Homo sapiens: one gene and its partner. The protein of the gene in region 2 purifies or fractionates together with the protein of the main gene of each other region. This does not show direct contact. Each region holds a gene or a part of one and is shown on either strand. Other genes may lie near its edges.

What was found. Proteins that work in one complex are often made in the same cells at the same time.
Region 1: the proteins of RCL1 (region 2) and CCNT1 purify together in Homo sapiens (affinity purification with mass spectrometry; one large-scale study listed by BioGRID and IntAct). This does not show direct contact.

Annotation. Positions count from the first base shown.
Region 1 is NC_000012.12:48,699,708-48,703,207, forward strand, and holds part of CCNT1 (cyclin-T1), read right to left. Parts: intron 1,367-3,500; coding exon 1,306-1,366; intron 134-1,305; coding exon 71-133; intron 1-70. UniProt on the Homo sapiens protein: Regulatory subunit of the cyclin-dependent kinase pair (CDK9/cyclin-T1) complex, also called positive transcription elongation factor B (P-TEFb), which facilitates the transition from abortive to productive elongation by phosphorylating the CTD (C-terminal domain) of the large subunit of RNA polymerase II (RNA Pol II).
Region 2 is NC_000009.12:4,830,727-4,834,575, reverse strand, and holds part of RCL1 (RNA 3'-terminal phosphate cyclase-like protein), read right to left. Parts: intron 1,423-3,849; coding exon 1,348-1,422; intron 436-1,347; coding exon 311-435; intron 1-310. UniProt on the Homo sapiens protein: As part of the small subunit (SSU) processome, it plays a role in 40S-ribosomal-subunit biogenesis in the early pre-rRNA processing steps at sites A0, A1 and A2 that are required for proper maturation of the 18S RNA.

The DNA of each region.
Region 1 (3,500 bases), on a different chromosome or scaffold from region 2:
TCCACCACAAACCACAACCTCTAAATGGGAAAACAGCTTGAGATAGTCTTCATAAGCTGGGATTCCTTACCTCGAACAAGTTGAGTGCACTTTACTACATGAGTATGTGGGTGATCAATTGTTAGTTCAAAGCCTTAAAAGAAAAAGTAATGGATTAAAAAACTATTAAGAAGTTTACATTTTACAAATTATTGTAAAAGGATAACTGATTGTAAATTACACCTTACTGGTTTCCACACTAAAATATTAATAGAAATTTATTCCACCAGAAAAACATCATTGTCCCATGAAATATAATTTGAAGATATTTTAAGAAAAAAGTTAACTAGAGGCTGGGCGCGGTGGATCAAGCCTGTAATCCCAGCACTTTGGGAGGCCGAGGCGAGCGGATCACAAGGTCAGGAGATCAAGACCATCCTGGCTAACACGGTGAAACCCTATCTCTACTAAAAATACAAAAATTTAGCTGGGCGTGGTGGCGGGCGCCTGTAGTCCCAGCTACTCTGGAGGCTGAGGCAGGAGAATGGCGTGCACCCAGGAGGCGGAGGTTGCAATGAGCCAAGATTGTGCCACTGCACTCCAGCCTGGGCGACAAAGCAAGACTCCGTCTCAAAAAAAAAAAAAAAAGAAAAAGAAAAAAGTTAACTAGAATAAATTGAGAGATAAACTTTGAAGAACTCATCATATATATATATGTACAAAAAAAATTGTGTCTACGCCAATAACTTTGACGTACAACTCATGAAATCTTACCCTACCTAGAAGAGAAAAATGATAGCCCAAAAGAACCAGGAAAAAAAAAATCTGTATTTTCATATTTTCTAAACTTCTAAAGGCAGCCTGTGTGATGAAAATAACAGATAATAACACAATATCATCAGAGTTGCCCATGCAACCACTAAAGCTTAAGTTCCCCCACTTTCACTCTGCTGTTCTAAACACTAGTTACCAATTTTAAAAACAAATGCTGTTACAGGCCATAACAATCCACGGAAGGAAAAACATTCTTTAGATAGTTTTTATAATTTTTGGGGGTAAAAATCACCAAAACTTAAAAAGCAAATAACCCTAGAATGAAAAAAATAATAACCCACTGGCTGCTGTTTCAAAGGTCAGCTGTACTACCTGCATTCACTCTATGGAACAGGTCAAAGCTAAACTCAGGTCTACAACCTCTATCATCTGGAAACAGAGGGACACTACAAAAACTTTCCCAAGAAATATTCTTCCTATATAGCAAATTTTTAGAATCAAATCATTTTATTGCATAATTTAAAAAAATGTTTCAAAGGAAAATAAACTTACCTAAAGTCTGCAAAATTATGCTTTCTAAAATGACCAGATCTTGAACTTGTTGCAAATAAGCCTAAAAGTGAGAAGACAGAAATTATTCCCTACAAAGGCACAATATATAAAGTATAAACAATTCTAACAATCCCTTCCAGGGAAACCAAAACAATAAAAGGCATGAGTGGAGTTAGGAGGTAGAGTTAAGAACTGAAATACAATCTTTTTTTTTTTTTTTTTTTTTTTTTTTAGACAGAGTCTCCCTCTGTCACCCAGGCTGGAGTGCAGTGGTGTGATCTCGACTCACTGCAACCTCCACCTCCCTGGTTCAAGCAATTCCCCTGCCTCAGCCTCCCAAGTAGCTAAGATTCCAGGCGCGCAACACCACGCCCGGCTAATTTTTTTGTGAAATACAATCTTTATCCCTTATGCCCATTCAGTACACATTTTCTTTAAAAAATAAATAAATAAGTAGTATGCTGAGAGGTAACAGTTTATATATGGCTACAGAAAAAGCACCATATATTTGGTTCATTTTCAGGTTAATATTTAAGTTTTATGGTTCATGTGATTTAGAGAAAAGAAAATTAAAAGTATGTATTTTTTGCTTTTCTTTTTTCTTTTTTTTTTGAGTTGGAGTTTCGCTCTTGTTGCCCAGGCTGGAGTGCAATGGCACAATCTCGGCTCACCACAACCTCTGCCTCCCGGTTCAAACAATTCTCCTGCCTCAGCCTCCCGAGTAGCTGGGATTACAGGCATGCACCACCACACCCAGCTAATTTTGTATTTTTAGTAGAGACGAGGTTTCTCCATGTTGGTCAGGCTGGTCTCAAACCCCCAACCTCAGATGATCCGCCCACCTCGGCCTCCCAAAGTGCTGGGATTACAGGCGTGAGCCACCGCACCCGGCCTTTTTTTTTGAGAGGGAGTCTCGCTCTGCTGCTCAGGCTGGAGTGCAGTGGCGCGACCTCGCCTCACTGCAACCTCTGCCTCCCAGGTTCAAGCGATTCTCCTGCCTCAGCCTCCCGAGTAGGTGGGATTACAGGAGCCCACCACCACGCCCGGCTAGTTTTTGTATATTTAGTAGAGACGGGGTTTCACCATATTGGCAAAGCTGGTCTTGAACCCCTGACCTCAGGTGATCCACCCGCCTCAGCCTCCCAAATTGCTAGGATTACAGGCATGAGCCACCGCGCCTGGCCATAAAGTATATATTTTTCAACATCACCAAAATACATTTGCAGAACCTTCCTACAGTACTGTAAGCATTTAATACCAAACATTTGGCTCCTATTAGAACTTCCCCTTTGGGGCCATGTTAGGTTTCTAAAAAGTAACAGAAGAGTTCAAAGGAAAAGGTAATAAGAAAATTCACTCAGATTTGTGCCAGCCAAAGCTATAGCCACTAGCCACATGTAGCCATTCATCACTTGAAATGTAGCTAAATTGAAACGTGCTATAACCATAAAATACACTGGATTTTTTAGACAGTTAAAAAATAAAGAATGGGCCGGGTGCGGTGGCTCACGCCAGTAATCCCAGCACTTAGGGAGGCCAAAGCAGGTGTATCACGAGGTCAGGAGTTCAAGATCAGCCTGGCCAATATGGTGAAACCCTGTCTCTATTAAAAATACTAAAAAATTAGCTGGGTGTGATGGTGGGCGTGAACCTTGGCTTGTTCCATAGAGTGAATGCAGGTAGTAATCCCAGCTATTCAGGAGGCTGAGGCAGAGAATTTCTTGAACCTGGGAGGTGGAGGTTGCAGTGAGCTGAGATCGCACCACGGCACTCCGGCCTGGGTGACAGAGCGAGACTCCATCTCAAAAAAAGAAAAAAAAAATGTAGCTAGGCATGGTTGCTCACACCTGGAATTCTAACACTTTGGGAGGCCAGTATGGGAGGATTCTTTGAAGGCCAAGAGTTCAAGACCAGCCTGGGTAACATGGTAAGACCCCTATCTCTACAAAAAAATAAAAATTAACTGGGAGTGGTGGCACGCAGCTATAGTCCTAGCAACTTGGGAGGCTGAGGTGAAATGATCACCTGCTCTTTATGAGAATCTAATGCCTGATGATCTGTCACTGTCTCCCATCACCCGTAGATGGGACCATCTAGTTGCAGGAAAAGAAGCTCAGGGTGGCCGGGTGCAGTGGCTCACACCTGTAATCCCAGCACTTTGGGAGGCCAAGGCGGGCGGATCACAAGGTCAAGAG
Region 2 (3,849 bases):
AGTATATTCATGGCCCCCAAACCAAAGCCCTTGAGAGAGGATCACATACATCAGAGCCATTTGCCTAAATGTTAACCGGAAAATTAAAAAAAAAAAAAAAAAAAGAATGACTCAATCAATCTAGTCATGGTGAGGCAGATAACAGAACATCCTAACTCAGCCAGCAATTACAATTTCACTGTTAAGACTTTTCAAAGTTGTAGTCTAAAATGTAAATAACCTCGGGAAGAAGTAAAGCTGTTAGTCATTCTTATCTTAGTGAGGCAACAACAACAAAAAAAAAAGAAATCCAAATAAATGGAAAGGATACGCCATTCCTCTAATACGTTTGATTTTTCCTGGATCTGTGAGTTGAATGGGCTTCAAGACCTTCCTCACAGGACATGAGAAAACCACTTCGCCTCCTCCTCCGGGAGGCATTCCCCGTCGCACAATCTACACAGAGAGTGAGAAAGATGAGGCGAGGATGCAGCAAAGCAATGGATTACCCTGACACCCTGCCCAGGAAGGTTTACACCAGCAGATGCTTCCTTACAAGGCATAGCTCTTCCATATTCAATCTGTCATTCCCTTCAAGACCAACAGCACCTTATGTTGGCTCCTAGAGAGTACCTGTGCAGCATGTGTCAAAGTCCAAGTCGATTACCCAAGTGGCTCTGCCACTCATCTCTTTAACCCTGAACAGGTCACTTCTTTATCCTTAAAATATAGAGCTGACCTAGTCCATCATCTGAGCCCATTTCTTAATAATCAGAAACCCCTTTTTCTCCTCCCATGCAAATAACGGATCTACCAAAACATTATTAAATAAAAATGAAGTCATTTCCCCTGTTTAAAACATGAATGTAAAAGGCAGAGATGCTAAACGGTTTACCACATTGGATTGATATAATTCAACAAAATACAGATGCTTAAACTACTTCTACTAGATTTTGGAAATACTGAAAATTCTCAGGGACATCCAGGTTGGGAGCCCCTGAACATAAATTATATCCAGATCATTTAGATCAGAGAGCCAATATGGCCCAAATCTATTCTCCACTGCTTGCTAGCTGAGGCACATGGGCGGAGCTGTTGTGAGGAGAAAAGGAGTTAGTATTTGTAAACTGCTTAGAACGGCCCCCACCGCAAAAGAAGTGCAACATCACTGTCAGCTACTATTGTTATTACTAAAGGGTCCCTTTCAGTTCAAAGTCTGTAGTGTTTATTTCATGAGCCCTGTGAGTCTTCTGATAACTGGTGACTTCAAATGTGACACACATACACTGAGTCACACAGCTCTTCCAATGAGTCAGTGGGAAAATGTTTTCCACAGGAACATATGGTCAACAGTTCAAACATTCTTACCTTCAGTTCAAATGATTCACCATCAATCCCAAATTGTTTCAACAAAGGGAGTGCTGTTGCCTTAAGAACATCAACCTATGAAATTATTTCAGAAAAGAAAAGTTTAATTAAGCCTTCAGCAGAATACAAGAGTCAAAAAAAACAAGTAAGGCTTAGCAACCAGGTAGATGATGCAGTGTGGTAAACAGAAAGGATGCTGGCATATAACTGAGCGAGTGGGCTGGCTCTGCCTGAGGAACACTGTGATTTCACAGGCCACTGGGCTTCTCTGAGCCGCACTTTCCTCATTCATGACATGGAGACCAACACCTACCTTAAAGTCATCGTGTGCATCAGAGGCATCATGCAAAAAGCATGGAGAGACTGGACTGTTGTAGAAAACAAATGGAGAACCCTACTTTTTTTTTTTTTTTTTTTTTTTTTGAGTGGAATCTCGCTCTGTCACCAGGCTGGAGTGCAGTGGCGCGATCTAGGCTCACTGCAACCTCTGCCTCCCAGGTTCAAGCGATTCTCCTGCCTCAGCCTCCTGAGTAGCTGGGACTACAGGCATGTGCCACCACGCCCAGCTAATTTTTGTATTTTTAGTAGAGACGGGGTTTCACCATGTTGGCCAGGATGGTCTCAATCTCTTGAACTTGTAATCTGCCACCTCAGCCTCCCAAAGTGCTGGGATAACAGGTGTGAGCCACCACACCCAGCCTGGAGAACCCTACTCATTCTTATAGGTATAAACGTACAGAAGAAAATCATCTTTTTCATTAACATTTGTCCAGTAGGGTTATTTAATGTTTAGAGCCGGTAGCATTCCGAGTCAAAGCAAACCAAATTAACTATTCAACAGCTCACCTAAGAATGCCAATGATGAGCACCACACAGGCAGCTAAAGGGAAGGTGATGATTTTACATGGGAGTTGGGGAGTCGGGGTGATGACAGCCTCAAACTACAGGAAGCAGCACAAACTCAAAACTACAATTAGTTACAACATCCATAGTTAATGGCAAGACTTTGCCACGTGTAACTGTTATCTCCTCCTGCATTCAGAGCTCCCAGGAAGTCTGGGGTCTTTCTGATCCATTTGTGGATTCCTGATAAGAGTAGAAAGATGGCATTCAAATCAGGTACTGTTATCTAACGAGTTGGCAAATGTTGCCTCAACTGCTACATGGGAAAGAAAATTACTCCATTACTTGTTCCCTTCTTGGATCTGTCAGCTGGCAGGGAGGGCAGGCACCACACAGAAGGCATAGGAAAAGCCCTAGTCCTGGTCCCAGCTCTGCTTCTAATTAGCTATGTTGCCTCAGACAAGAAAATCACAACTATCTGAATTTCCTTATCTCTAAGGCAAGGGGCTCAAGCCCAGCCATCTCCAAGTTACAACTAACTCTAACAGGCTAAGAAGCCCCAACTAAATATTGTGATATCAGAAAAATACCAGACTTAGGAATGACCTGTGAGGCCTAAGAACATGCTTAGAATGGATCAGGTGGGGCAGGGGAAACTAGGAAAACCACTGAAGATTAGCTAATTTTAAATATTAAAGCTACAGCCCGAGCAACATAGTGAGACCTCATCTCTACTAAAAAAAAATAAGCTGGGCATGCTGCACGCCTGTGGTCCTAGCTACTTGAGAGGCTGAGGTGGGAGGATCACTTGAGCCCAGGACTTCAAGGCTTTGGTGAGCCACGATCATGCCACTGCACTCCAGCCTGGGAGACAGAGTGAGACCCTCTCTCTAAAAATAAAAAAATAAAGCACACTCAAAAACTTAATATATGCATTTGGCGTTGCCAGATAAAGAAGAATACAGTCGAGGCTTAAGAGCAGCTGGGGAGAAGGCCAAGTCAGATTCTGAAAAAGTAGGGGATGCAATGCTGCAGTTACTCTGGGCAGCCACCGGCTCTCTCGAGGGAAAAAAAGGTGAAAAAACACAGCATTCCTTCTGGCTCATCCTTCCTATACCTTGAGTCACAAAGAGTGAAGCCAAATTTACTTAGTTCAGCAAGAAGCCCAAGGGTAATTCCAGGTGTAGTCCTGTCCCTTTATCACTCTCCATATGACATGGAAGACAGGCAACTTGGTGCGGTGGGACAAGGGCAGGAAAAGCAGATGAGGGCTTGGGACCTACTCTGCCTCTCACTGGCTGTTAGACCCTAGACAATTCCCTGTCTCCTGGGCCTCAGTTTCCTCCTTCGTAAAATGAGAGGCTGGGCCGAACACTCTCCAGTCTCCTGCAGCTTTGCACATTCTAGTTTTAGCAGAGTGATGGTGGCCTGTAAGTTCTGCTTAAGGGAAAGTGATCGGTCCACTCTGCGGTCAGAGAGAAAAGGCAAAGATCAAACCCTAAGTGGCAGCTCAGGGCAAAGGTATTACCATTACAGCGCAGTCAATCAATCAAAAGGTAAAAATGTAATCAATCTATGCTAAAAAAAGAAAAAAGAGAGGAAGAAACCTGCTCTCCAGTTACCTTGTCTGAAACACCCACCTCACTGGGTTGGTAGAAG